Linked DNA regions of Homo sapiens. The protein of the gene in region 2 purifies or fractionates together with the protein of the main gene of each other region. This does not show direct contact. Each region holds a gene or a part of one and is shown on either strand. Other genes may lie near its edges.

The links. The genes of interacting proteins can lie anywhere in the genome.
Region 1: the proteins of RFC1 (region 2) and PDS5A fractionate together in Homo sapiens (co-fractionation; one large-scale study listed by BioGRID). This does not show direct contact.
Region 3: the proteins of RFC1 (region 2) and POLD2 fractionate together in Homo sapiens (co-fractionation; one large-scale study listed by BioGRID). This does not show direct contact.
Region 4: the proteins of RFC1 (region 2) and RACGAP1 fractionate together in Homo sapiens (co-fractionation; one large-scale study listed by BioGRID). This does not show direct contact.

The regions. Positions count from the first base shown.
Region 1 is NC_000004.12:39,862,912-39,866,411, forward strand, and holds part of PDS5A (sister chromatid cohesion protein PDS5 homolog A), read right to left. Parts: intron 549-3,500; coding exon 425-548; intron 163-424; coding exon 1-162. UniProt on the Homo sapiens protein: Probable regulator of sister chromatid cohesion in mitosis which may stabilize cohesin complex association with chromatin. May couple sister chromatid cohesion during mitosis to DNA replication.
Region 2 is NC_000004.12:39,290,160-39,293,362, reverse strand, and holds part of RFC1 (replication factor C subunit 1), read left to right. Parts: intron 1-1,510; coding exon 1,511-1,724; intron 1,725-3,203. UniProt on the Homo sapiens protein: Subunit of the replication factor C (RFC) complex which acts during elongation of primed DNA templates by DNA polymerases delta and epsilon, and is necessary for ATP-dependent loading of proliferating cell nuclear antigen (PCNA) onto primed DNA.
Region 3 is NC_000007.14:44,114,180-44,117,364, forward strand, and holds the end of POLD2 (DNA polymerase delta subunit 2), read right to left. Parts: intron 3,069-3,185; coding exon 2,954-3,068; intron 2,837-2,953; coding exon 2,638-2,836; intron 2,332-2,637; coding exon 2,251-2,331; intron 2,094-2,250; coding exon 1,936-2,093; intron 1,715-1,935; coding exon 1,587-1,714; intron 1,218-1,586; coding exon 1,116-1,217; intron 767-1,115; coding exon 606-766; 3' UTR 501-605; downstream 1-500. Other genes in the region: AEBP1 (adipocyte enhancer-binding protein 1 precursor), read left to right, coding at 1-82. UniProt on the Homo sapiens protein: Accessory component of both the DNA polymerase delta complex and the DNA polymerase zeta complex.
Region 4 is NC_000012.12:49,997,995-50,001,494, forward strand, and holds part of RACGAP1 (rac GTPase-activating protein 1), read right to left. Parts: intron 3,259-3,500; coding exon 3,178-3,258; intron 1,740-3,177; coding exon 1,622-1,739; intron 1,278-1,621; coding exon 1,147-1,277; intron 1-1,146.

The sequences.
Region 1 (3,500 bases), 570 kb from region 2:
GATATTTTTCAGTAAACATTGTCGTGCGTGTGCTCTTCTCTCCTTCACAGGATCTTTGGCACACAAGGCAAAGATCGCCATATACTCCAATGGGAGCAGTAACTTCACAAGTGCCTTATGCAGCTTCTGAGCAAATATCTGCCTTACTTGGTAACACTCATCCTACAGCAGCACAGAAAAACTTAAATTGGCAACCATTTATTAAATAAAAAACAGCAGTTTAAGTATTTTTAGTGTCTTCAATTAAAAAGAAGATAATTATATGGGAGAATAAATAATGTAATAATTGGAAGACAGTTAAACAGGTAATAATAGTAGTGACTTTTGTGCATATATTCACATTATAAATGGATTTGTATCCATAGAAAAGTAATGTATTCAACTTTGAAGATAAGTAATTGACAAAAATAAGATTGTTACTTACATTAATAACAAGTGCACAGAGCTGAAACTGTTCTGGGGTAATAATTTCATGGTAACAAGGTTCCTGAGCAAGCTTCATTATGGCACTACCAGCAGCTAATCGCAAGCGAGACATATCAGATTTACTATAAACAAACAAAAAAGAAATAAACATTTCCTATAACCACTATCATTCATAAAAATGCTTTCGTCCCTTTTTGAATGTAAGGTCCTTAGAGCATAATTTATGTTTAAAATGACGTACAAATATGGGAAAGCTACTTTGAGTCCATGAACTTAACACAGGGGATTGTGACTTTCACAATCAAATCAAATCATTGTGACTTTCTGATTACAAATTTACCTGCCTTCATTTCTAGTCAAACTCTAGCTTAGATACTTCACCACAACCCAAAAACTCTGCTTATTCTTGCAACCATAGTAATTGCAAGGCTAGGAAAAACTCTTTACATCAGGAGCTGTATCCCTCATTTTAAGAGAAATACATATTGATTGTAGAAAACTTGATTAAAGTGGCCAGGCATGGTGGCTCACACCTGTAATCCCAGCACATTGGGAGGCCGAGGTGGACGGATCACGAGGTCAAGAGATTGAGACCATCCTGGCCAACATGGTGAAACCCTGTTTCTACTAAAAATACAAAAAATTAGCTGGGTGTGGTGGCACGCACTTGTAGTCCCAGCTACTTGGGAGACTCAGGCAGGAGAACTGCTTGAACCTGAGAGGTGGAGGTTGCAGTGAGCCAAGGTCGCACCACTGCACTCTACCCTGGCAACAGAGTAAGACTCTGTCTCAAAAAAAACAAAAAACAAAAAACAAAAAACAAAAAAACTTGATTAAAAAAACCACAAAGAATTAAAAAAAAAATCACCTATCATCATTTAAAATCTATTTCCTGCATATAAACATGTAACAGGAATCTAGTTTAATGCCTGCTGAAATGGCAGGGCTGCAGTTAAGAGTGAAGAAGTATCAGACAAATACCTAAAGGATATGAAATATAAGAGGCCAGTGTCTGTCTTAGGTACTAGTTCCTGGGGCTGATCTCCTTTTGCAGAGTAAAGTTTTCAAATGGAACCTATGAAGCCTTGGCACTCCCACCCCGACACTGTGGATTTTTATTACTTACGTGGTAAAATGTGGTAATGAATGGGATGGCATGGGAGTCTTTCTACTTCGACTTCTATGTGGAACATAGCATGGCTTTTGTATTTATTGTGACCACTTTACGAAATGCAGAAAGCTAGCCGGAACCCACTGGGACTGTTGCTAAGCATAGAGAGAAGAAAACCTGGCACTCTTGGACAACAGGATTGTTAAAATGAGCACTGGTAACAATGAGGGAGCCTCAAATGGTTTCTATGGCATTCATTCAGGAATCAAAGTTAATAGCTATTATGTGAGTGCTTACTCCGTGCCAGGCAGGTGTGAAAAACACTTTATAGGCTTTATCTCAATTAATTTTCACTCCATAAGATGAGGAAATTGAGGCTTACAAAAGGTAATACTATATTATATGATATCCAGTTAGGATCTGTCCAATGGGTGTTCATTCTATGGTTAACCATTCCCCTATTTTTTGTGATGGAAAATAATGCTGGAGGAACATGCTTGTGTATAAGCTTTCATATGATTCTTTTATACTCATGAATTATGAGTGTAAAAATAAAGAGTCAAGGATAACATTTTTGAGGATCTAGATGCAAAATGCCAAAGAGTCCTGCTAATTTATACTCATAGGAGTAATGAAGGAACCCATTTCCATGATCATACTGAGGAATGATTGCTTATAACGTTTTTTTTTCTTTCTGATTTGTAATGAAAAGAGGTATTGATTAAGTTTAAATTGTATTGACTGCATTTAGTGATGTTAAACTTTTAAAAGTAAACTGATAATAGCTAAACTTCATCTCCACTGGGGGTCCTGCCTAGGTATCACTGACTTGTAAGAGCTCATTATTATGCCTTTGCCATGTACTGTACATAATTACCCCCAATTTAAAGCTTTCATTATCCCTAACTCAGCTCTAAACAGTGTTATAAAAGGCTGCCTTTGGCTTATTCTATGATAAAAATAGAGCGTAGTGGTGCACACCTATAGTCCCACTACTCAGGAGGCTGAGGCAGGAGGATTGCTTGAGCCCAGCTAGCCTGGGCAACATAGTGAGATCCCATTCCTAATCACAATAATTTTTAAAAAAATTAATAGCATAGCAGTACCACATAACTAGCCAAAGCTGGAGTACAATGGCGTGATCTTGGCACACTGCAACCTCCACCTCCTGGGTTCAAGTGATTTTCATGCCTTAGCCTCCCCAGTAGCTGGGATTATAGGCACGTACCACCACACCTGGCTAAATTTCTATATTTTTAGTAGAGACAGGGTTTCAACATGACCTCAATTGATCTGCCTGACTTGGCCTACCAAAGTGCTGGGATTACAGGCGTAAGCCACTGCACTCAGCCTCATAAAGAATGATTAAACCTCTGTCCTCTAAAACAAATTTTTAAAAAGGAATGCATCATATGTAGAATACTTTAGTTATCTATGTTGGTAATCTTGGCCCCTACTAAATCAAGAATTTGACAGAAACCAGGATCATGAAAAACTGAGCTTCTATTTTCATCTTAAAATGAGATGGCAATTTTAGAGATTAAAAGTGAAAATGTGTAACAATGTAAACAATCTCTGTGTGCACATACAAGTGTACACACCCAAATCTGTAGAACAACAAGAAGGCTTCAACTCTCCCTTGAGTTGCCATTGCAATTTTTATTTTTATTTATTTATTTATTTTGAGACAGGCTCTCGCTCTGTTGCCCAGGCTGGAGTGCGGTGGCACGATCTCAGCTCACTGCAACCTCTGCCTTCTGGTTTCAAGCGATTCTCCTGCCTCAGCCTCCTGAGTAGCTGGGATTACAGGCATGTGCCACCATGCCTGGCTAATTTTTGTTTTTTGTTTTAGTAGAGACGGGGTTTCACCATATTGGCCAGGCTGGTCTTGAACTCCTGACCTCGTGATCTGCCCGTCTCGGCCTCCCAAAATGCTGGGATTACAGGCATAGGCCACCGCGCC
Region 2 (3,203 bases):
ACCCTTGGTTTAGGTGCACTAAATGGCATCTTTGACTTTTCTATGAGTCTATTAGAAGATGATGATACTGTAAAACATTGTAGAACAGTTTTGGAAATGGTTTCATGATTTCTGGGGGTACTGTGGCTTAGGGACTCACACTGCTTCCTTTAAGTACTAGCGTGCTTAATTATGGAAGACAATCTAGAGGAAATGGATGAAATTAAACTAGGAGAGTTTTAAAAACTCTTTGTCTAGGTAATAGTTGCGAGGGTGAGTCTAGATTTCTGATCAGGAAAAAAGCTGTGGCTTCTTATGGTTCACACATTCAGTTCCTTGAAGGCAGGAGCAGGACCCATAGACAATTTGTAAAGAATCATTTCTTTTTGCTTCTGATGCTGGTTCTGATAACAACAACTTTTGAAGTTTTACGTATACAGGCTGGGTGCGGTGGCTCACGTCTGTAATCCCACCACTTTGGGAGGCCAAGGCGGGTGGATCACCTGTTAGGAGTTTGAGACCAGCCTGGGCAAGATGGTGAAACCCTGTCTCTACTAAAAATACAAAAAAAAAAATTAGCCGGGTGTGGTGGCGGGTGCCTGTAATCCCAGCTACTTGGGAGGCTAAGTCAGGAGAACCTCCTGAACCCGGGAGGTGGAGGTTGCAGTGAGCCAAGACTGCACCACTGCACACCAGCCTGGGCAACAAGAGTGAGGCTTCGTCTTTAAATAAATAAATAAATAAATAAATAAATAAATAAATAAATAATGTATACATATAAATGCCTGGTTTGAAGATAGAGGCAGCTGGGTTGGAAAGATTTAGGATGGTGGCATTTGAAATATTGTTTTGTTCAGTTGCTTTCTGTCTTTAAGAAGTGACAACATTTAAGAGAGAAAGAAAGAGTCATTTTATGATAACATTCGAGTTCTCAGCAGACCAGAGACTGTTTCCCTAAACCTTCCTCTGGCCACTGTGGATCACTTTTTGATTTTGTGGGAACACTCTGTAATTTTCTTAGATTTGGAGAAAAGCCGGCTCTAGAACTGACGATTTCAGAGTAACAGTATTAGGAAATGTGAGGGAAGCATTCATATATGATTTTGTGTGTTATAATCAGGGACCAAAAGGTGTTATACACATTCACACACTTGAGATAGGGAATTTCATTGCCTTATACTGATGCTTTTAATATTTTGGAACTTGGAACGAGTCATATTTATGAACACAAAGAAACATTCTGTTGCCTGGGCCTTAAGAGTAGGGTGGAAGTAGAATCCACGTATGTTTTTCAGTCACTGATGTAGGTAAGTAGAAAATTTCCTTTGGGCACATTGATGTGTACCCATTACCCTCATGCTGTGGTGCTGGGCTTTCTAAACTACACCAGCTGGCTGTCAAATAGTAGGCATTCCATTCAGCATTATTGAAATTGGATTGAACTCTGCCTGATTAACTCAGTGCTGTTATGCACAGTATGACTTGAGTTGATACTTTGCTGTTGACTATGTCTCTTTTGTTGTGGTTTCAGAACTTACTCCAGCAAAAGGACTGTAAACATGGATTATCTGTCGCTTCTAAGGGATGCACTTGTACAGCCCTTGACCTCACAAGGAGTAGACGGAGTACAGGATGTTGTTGCACTTATGGACACATATTATTTGATGAAAGAAGACTTTGAGAATATCATGGAAATCAGCAGCTGGGGTGGCAAACCTAGTCCCTTTTCAAAGCTGGATCCCAAGGTAAATCATGTCACTCACTGGTTCTTCGTCACTTTCTATTACCAGGTTTGTACTGACAATACTTCGGAGGTGTTTTAGATGCTTTAAGATTTACTTCTTTTTCCCCTCAAATGCTTGTTGCTTCTTATGGCCTATATTTTCCAAAGATACTATTTGAATGCAGTATTAAGAGTAGACTTCTGGGCTTGACTTTACAATTTGTATTTTTATCTTTGCTTTATGCTCAGTGGAAAAGCAAGAAGTGAAATTTGAGGAGCAAATATAAATATATTCTTTATAAAGGATGAGTGGATGAGTCTAGGGAATTAAAAGTTGAGCGGTGAGCTCTGGTGGTAATGGGTTGTAAAAATAAAATATGTTTATTGGCTGAGGATTTGTACAAATTTTCTTTTTCTTAGTCTACCTAATCTGTGGATTCAGTATTTATTCCAGTTGGATAATCTTCTCTGTAATAATGTATCCCCACTTTTCTTATAATGAGACGAAAAAAACTAAAGTGATACATCATGAATATGTAACATCCAATACCCAACTCTTGCACCTGTGTAATGAATGCGTTTTAGAAGACATATTCTCTGTAGTTTGCCCTCCCCAGAATTTTGACCCGACTTTATGGTTATCAGTAAATTCTCACAGCAGACATCCATTGTTAGAATTCATGGACTAATTCAGGAATTATGTTTAGAAGCTTGAAGGTAAGACTTTCAAGTTACTTAGTATTTTGAAGTAACTACTCTTATTATGGAAAAGGTATCTAGTGTTTTGTGGAAATTAAAGGCCAACTTATATCTTGTGATGAGCTCCCCCAACCTTTTTTTTTTTTTTTGAGACAGTCTAGCTCTGTTGCCCAGGCTGAAGGGCAGTGGTGCGATCTCGGCTCACTGCAACCTCTGCCTCCCGGGTTCAAGCCATTCTCATGCCTCAGCCTCCCAAGTAGCTGGGATTACAGGTGCACTCCATCACGCCTGGCTAAGTTTTGTATTTTTAGTAGAAATGGGGTTTCCCTATGTTGGCCAGGCTGGTCTCAAACTCCTGGCCTCATGTGAACTGCCTGCTTTGGCCTCCCAAAGTGCTGGGATTACAGGCGTGAGCCACCACACCCAGCCGAGCCCCTTTTTGATTTACTGATTCACTGATTAACTTTGCTTACTACTTTGTAGAAATGTGGAGAATGCTGAATAGGTAAACATGATGACTTGAAGTGACCTTTTGTTTGTTTGTTTGCCTAAAGTTCCCAAATATATATATACGTATTTTTTTTTTTTTTAGACAGAATCTCACTCTGTTACCCAGCCTGGAGTGCAGTGGCGCAATCTCAGCTCACTGCAACCTCCACCTCCTGGGTTCAAGATTCTCATGGAGAAGCATGAGCCACTGTGCCCCACCTTCAGTCTTTTTTGTCATGGGCTCTATTAAGAATGTTATGAAAAATATGGAACTTATCCACAGAAAAATGCACGTACTTAGATTTACATGTAT
Region 3 (3,185 bases), on a different chromosome or scaffold from region 2:
GAAAGAGGAGGAGATAGCCACTGGCCAGGCATTCCCCTTCACAACAGTAGAGACCTACACAGTGAACTTTGGGGACTTCTGAGATCAGCGTCCTACCAAGACCCCAGCCCAACTCAAGCTACAGCAGCAGCACTTCCCAAGCCTGCTGACCACAGTCACATCACCCATCAGCACATGGAAGGCCCCTGGTATGGACACTGAAAGGAAGGGCTGGTCCTGCCCCTTTGAGGGGGTGCAAACATGACTGGGACCTAAGAGCCAGAGGCTGTGTAGAGGCTCCTGCTCCACCTGCCAGTCTCGTAAGAGATGGGGTTGCTGCAGTGTTGGAGTAGGGGCAGAGGGAGGGAGCCAAGGTCACTCCAATAAAACAAGCTCATGGCACGGACTGCTCACATTCTGAGGTGTCAGGGATGGGGAGGAGGGAGACCGGCTGGTGGGTGCATGGGCTATGGTCACTGTGGGCACCCCTGCAGGAGTCCCATAGCCAGAGTGCCCAGGGCTCAAGGCTCGCATCAGCAAGTGCTCAGGCTTTATTTACAATGCCGACACTGCAGGGAATGAACAGCCTCCATCTGGGCCTCTCTGGTCAAAACCACTTTTTTGAGTCAGGGGCCCAGCCCCAGGCCTCCCAGGTCATCGTCCTCTGCCCCGAAGCCCGAGAAGCTGATGGGCTGGCAGGCCAGGCTGCGCAGGTTCACAAGGCAGGCGGTCTGCGTGGCACTGAAGTCAGGGACAGTCACCAACAGCACTGTCTGGTCCTCAGGACCTGCAAAGAAGTCACATAGGACCCACTGTAGGTTCCAAGTAAGTCCTGCCTCAAAGAGAAGCTGCCAGAAATAAACAGGAGTCCCCATTGGCACACAGTGGGGCAGTGACAATAGGAGACCAGAGATTAGCCTTGAGAGGCACACAGGCTGGGAGCCGTTCCAGTCCCTGCCCAGCTGGCGAGGCAGCTTGGCTCCCACAGTGAAATGGCAGCTGTGCAGAAGACCTCAGCTGTCCATCCCACAAGGGCCAGGGGGACTCCACAATGCAGGTTTTCTTCTCTGTGAACCTTGTCCCCAGGTGAGAGCAAATCAGCAAATCAGCCTGGGCCCCCAGAAGACAAAAATTACCTCGGATGATTTTGGAGCCAAAGCTGGGGGTGTTGCCACAAAAGTAGACATGCGGGCACTCTGGGAAGATGAACGGGTCAGTTTTGTAGAAGGGGTAACAACCTGGAGGAGAAGGGGCAGCTCTGAGGAGGGTTCCGCCTCAGCACTAGCACTCTGCACAGGATGTGGGGCTGCAGCCCCTCCTCCCATTGCAGGCCAGTAGGAGACCCCCAGTGTGACAATAGGGGCACCTCCAGACATTGTCACAAGACCTTGGCCCTGCTGTTGCTGCCCGTTGGGGTGGGCAGCCATTGGCCTTAGAATTAAGATTCCAGAGTAGCTTCCAGAGCAGGTGCCAAGCCTCTGAACTTCTCCTCAGACAGTTCTCAGCAATGCTGGCAAGTGCAAACCCACAGGGGGACCCTGTGCACTTCAGGGTCCTGCCAGGCCTCCTGGCCCTCTGCTCCCACCCTGTATGGCTGAGCCTGTTACCTAGAGTGTCAGGGGCTGTGGGGCTGATGTGACGGACCCGCAGGGTCCACTCCAGGATCTCCAAGTGATCCTCCATGCTGCTGTATCGGAAAATGTCACTCACGTTCTGTCCTGATGTCCCCAAAAATCTGCAAGGCAAAGCTCAGCTGACTCTTGGCTTTGGGTGCCACCCATAGTGGTCAGCCCAGAGCTCATCTGGCGCTCTTGTGGGGATGCCCCAGAGAGAAGGAACAGATGCTAGGTGGGCCTCTGCAGCCCTGCCACCTTCCTGGGCCCTCCCTCCCCTCCCTTCTTTGTGCCTCCTGAGGCAAAAGGCTGGGTCAGACTGAAGTGTGGCTGTGCCAGCTACCTGACTCCATCAATGGTGGCCTGGTAGGGGTTGGTGACCAGCTGGAGCGTGGAGTAGGCAGTGGCCAGCGGGAACATGCAGGGGTGGAGGGGCTGCTGGGGGAGCGTGTAATTGGTGGGATCAAACTCGCCTGGCATCACGTCCACGGGCACTGAGGCCTGGAAGGCACAGGGCAGGGAGAGCTCACAGGGCCCCGAAGGAGCCCCCTACACCAACTCCGGCCACTCCCCCTGCCCTCCTGCCTGCCTTCTGTTGCCCAGTGGCAGCTTTGAAGACTGCAATCCCCATCACCCCTCCAGCCCCCAGCTCGCTCACGCTCAGCTGCAGGAGGATCTCATCCAGCATCTTAACAGCCTCCACGCTGGCTGCCTGGGTTTTCTTGGTGAGGTATTTGGCCTGGAATAGAAGCCCAGAAGGCCATCAGGCCCAGGCGAGTCCCAGGCTCAGAGGAGAGTAGAGCCCCACCAGCTGGAAGATGCAGTTGTTGTCCCATAGACCCTCACTCCCTTCAAGCCTCCCACCATCCTCAGCGAGGGCCTGGGCATGAGGAGCCCCATTGCAGGAGGCCCCAGAGTCACTGCAGGGCGCTTCCCACCGACCTGCGAGACCTCACAGGGTACCCTACTCGCCCTGGGGAAGGAGGGTCTTACAGGCTTGCAGGCTCCTGGGCTGGGGCTGAATGCAGCCAGGTGGGCTCCATACCTTATTGATAGAATCCCTGCTCTGGGTGCTGTGGCTGAGGAGGTTGCCAGCGAGGATAACCCGGGAGACGTGGGCGGCGCTGCACTGCTCCCCTTCGTCCCCAAGCTGCCCCGTCACCACATCCACCAGCAGCTGGGTGCCCAGCAGGCTCTCGCCTCCACCGCCACCCAGGCCCAGGCCGGACACCAGTAGCACAAACCTGCGGGAGAAGGTGGGGTCCTCCAGGGTGCCGAGAAGGGAGGCAGCCCCTCCTAGGTGCAACTCAAAGATTCCACTGACCATGAGCTGGTTCCAGCTCCCGAGAACTGCTGCTCACCTATCTGTGTCAAGTGGGGGTGCGGGCTTCTGGGGAGCAAGGTCAGCAAAGCAATAGTCCTCCACCAGAAACTTCCCGTCGTCTCTCACGGAGCCAAACACAGCCAGGACAGTCCCTGGGGAGCAGTGGCATCAGGCCTGAGCAGGGAGCCCCAGGTGCTACCACTCCTTCCAGTCACCCCAACGGGCAAAACAAGCCAGTTCTCCACAACCACATTGGTGAATTCTCACCT
Region 4 (3,500 bases), on a different chromosome or scaffold from region 2:
CATTTTAAGATGAGGAAACAGAAGCAAAGAGAGTTTAAGTAACTTGTTTAAGGTCATCCCACTGGAAGGCAGCAGTGTGTGATAGTGGAAAGAACTTGTTTACAAAGAGCAGAAAACTTGGATGTTGGCAGGGCATGGTGGCTCACGCCTGTAATCCCAGCACTTTGGGAGGCTGAGGCGGGAGGATCACCTGAGGTCAGTAGTTTGAGACCAGCCTGGCCAACATGGTGAAACCCCATCTCTACTAAAAGTACAAAAAATTGGCCGGGCATGGTGGTGGGCACCTGTAATCCCAGCTACTCGGGAGGCTGAGGCAGGAGGATTGCTTGAACCCGGGAGGCAGAGGTTGCAGTGAGCCGAAATCGCACCACTGCACTCCAGCCTGGGCAACAGAGTGAGACTCTGTCTCAAGAAAAAAAAAGAAAAAAAGAAAACCTGGATGTGAAATCTGTCACTTACTATCATGTGGCTCAAAAATGTCAGTTAACTCCTCTGAGCCTCAGTTAATTTGCTTGGATTTTTATAAGGAAATAAAATGGTACAAAAGCAAAACATTTTGAAAATCTTAGGTGATATATTCAAGAAAAAATGTAAACATGTGTCACTAAAAAGTACTAACAATGGGCCAGGCACAGTAGCTCATGCCTGTAATCCCAGGACTTTGGGAGCTGAGGCAGGGGGAGCACTTGAGCCCAGGAGTTCAGGACCAGCCTGAGCAACATAGCAAGACCAAGTCTCTACAAAAAATTTAAAAATTAGCCGGGCGTGGTGGCACACATCTGTATCCCTACTACTCAGGAGGCTGAGGCAGGAGGATTGCTTGAGACTGGGAGGTTAAGGCTACAGTGAGCTATGATTACACCCCTGCACTCCAGCCTGGGTGACAGAGTAAGACTCTGTCTCAAATTAAAAAAAAAAAAGTACTAACAATTGCTTCAGAAAAGTTGGTCTCTTTAATTTAGTATTACTCACAGAATGGAAAGAAACTTACCTCTGTAACCAATAGTTACTTCTGGAGAGTAAAATTGGAATGAGGAAGGAAATTTGACATTTAACTTTATAACACTAAAGTATTTAACTTTATTCCTGGTATTTATTACTTTCACAATTAAAAAATTAAAACACAAACAACAATCACAGATTTACCGTCTTAGAAACAAAGTCATGCAGGCGCATCCCTCCATTACTCTGTGGCGTGCCCACACTGTCTGTCTCAGTTCTTGGCTCCAGCTGCCTGCTGTTCAGGGTGGAGTCACTGTTCCAAGGTTGTAAAGTACCTAGAAAACAAGCAACTTTTAAGCTTTGTGTCTTAAGTATTTTGCTCCTTCTAAATTTTAGCTCCAATTTTAACTGGGAGATAAACAGTAATCTGTTATCATAGCCAAAAGTGAGAACTAATGGCTATGTAAAAAAACAGTTTCAAGAAAAACTAAAGTTATGCCAGTGGGCTAGCAATTCAAAGGTAAAGCATGACACAAGCAGTTCTCTGGTCCTCGGTATGCAGCAGTAAGAAACTACCCAATACATCCAATCCCCGCCTCCAGAGGGTTCTAAGAAACCAACTCTCCAAAATTTTGCTAGTTGTTTTACACAGGCCAGTTTAGTCACAAATTCAATGGACCTGTTTTCCTTCGGCTCCTGGTCCAATATGGCACAGTCTCAATAGTGGACACAGCTTCGATGGGCCCGCCATCATTGGGAACAGTCACTGTAGTTTTTGCAACTATGGATTCATTCCCCTGCAACAAAAGTAGTAATGAGGAAAGACAAACAAAGAATCTAACTTACCCTCCACTATAGGGTATTTTGGAGCAGGTAAAAAATTCCTTAGTCTTAGTCAAGACTTAAGACCCCAGTCTGATACTTTTTTTTTGAGACAGAGTTTTTCACTCTACCGCCCAGGCTGGAGAACAGTGGCGTGATCTCGGCTCACTGCAACCTCCGCCTCCCAGGTTCAAGGCATTCTCCTGCCTCAGCCTTCTGAGTAGCTGGGATTACAAGCATGCGCCACCACACCTGACTGATTTTTTTTTTTTTGAGACGGAGTCTCGCTGTGTCGCCCACGCTGGAGTACAGTGGCCCAATATCGGCTGACTGCAAGCTCCACCTCCCGGGTTCACGCCATTCTCCTGCCTCAGCCTCCCGAGTAGCTGGGACTACAGGCGTCTGCCACCATGCCCAGCTAATTTTTTGTATTTTTAGTAGAGATGGGGTTTCACTGTGTTAGCCAGGATGGTCTCAATCTCCTGACCTCGTGATCCACCCGCCTCAGCCTCCCAAAGTGCTAGGATTACAGGCGTGAGCCACCGCGCCTGGCCGACTGATTTTTGTATTTTTAGTAGAGACGGGATTTCGCCATGTTGACCAGGCTGGTCTCGAACTCCTGACCTCAGGTGATCATCCACCTGCCTAGGCCTCCCAAAGTGCAGGGATTACAGGCGTGAGCCACCACGCCTGACCTGAAACATTCTTATGTTGAAATCTGATGTTTGGCTGGGTGCAGTGGCTCATGCCTGCAATCCCAGCATTTTGGGAGGCCAAGGTGGGAAGATCACTTGAGCCCCGCAGTTCGAGTCATCCTGGGCAGCAAGGAGAGACTCCCCCTCTACTTTAAAAAGTAAAAATAAAGAAATCTCGTACCTAAGAAGATAAACATAGGTCATGGGGGTATATATTCAAGCAACTAAGACTCACTCTGACAGTTGTTTACTACATCAGAGTAATTCCATTCATAGGGATAAGGATCCTACTGCATAGAAAAACTTTAACCAAAGGCCAGGCACGGAGGCTCACGCCTGTAATCCCAGCACTTTGGGAGGCTGAGGCAGGTAGATCACCTGGTCAGGAGTTCGAGACCAGCCTGACCAATATGATGAAACCCTGTCTCTACTAAAAATACAAAAATTAGCCAGACGTGGTGGCATGCGCCTGTAATCCCAGCTACGTGGGAGGCTGAGACAAGAGAATCACTTGAACCTGGAAGGTGGAGGTTACAGTGAGCCAAGATGGTGCCATTGCACTCCAGCCTGGGCTACAAGAACAAAACTCTGTCTCAAAAAACAAACAAAAACTTTAACTAAACATCATGTCTCTCAAAACAATGCTGCAATGCTGACTCAGAGAAGTTTTAATGCTTGGGGCCAGTAATCTCTGTTACCTTGGCCTGACTATTCTTACCTGGTCTACTGCAGAGCCAATGGAACGAGTTTTCTTTACAGGTCCAGGGGGACCATCAACAAACTGTCGGCTAGTAGAGCGCTAGAAAGGAGACAAAGACCCGTAACTTTAATGCCAAGCAGATCTGAAGCACAGAAGATAAAATTATTCCATCAAACAACTTGGATACAGGTCCTGGGGATTAGGGCTACAGTAAATAACAAACAATGTGTTCTCTCTCTCTCTCTCTTTGCCTATTTCCACATGAAGAATAAGCTGTTTCAAAAGAATATGTTGTACAAAAATGCTCTCAGTGCCCTAGAAAAAATGAGCAAGCTATGGAG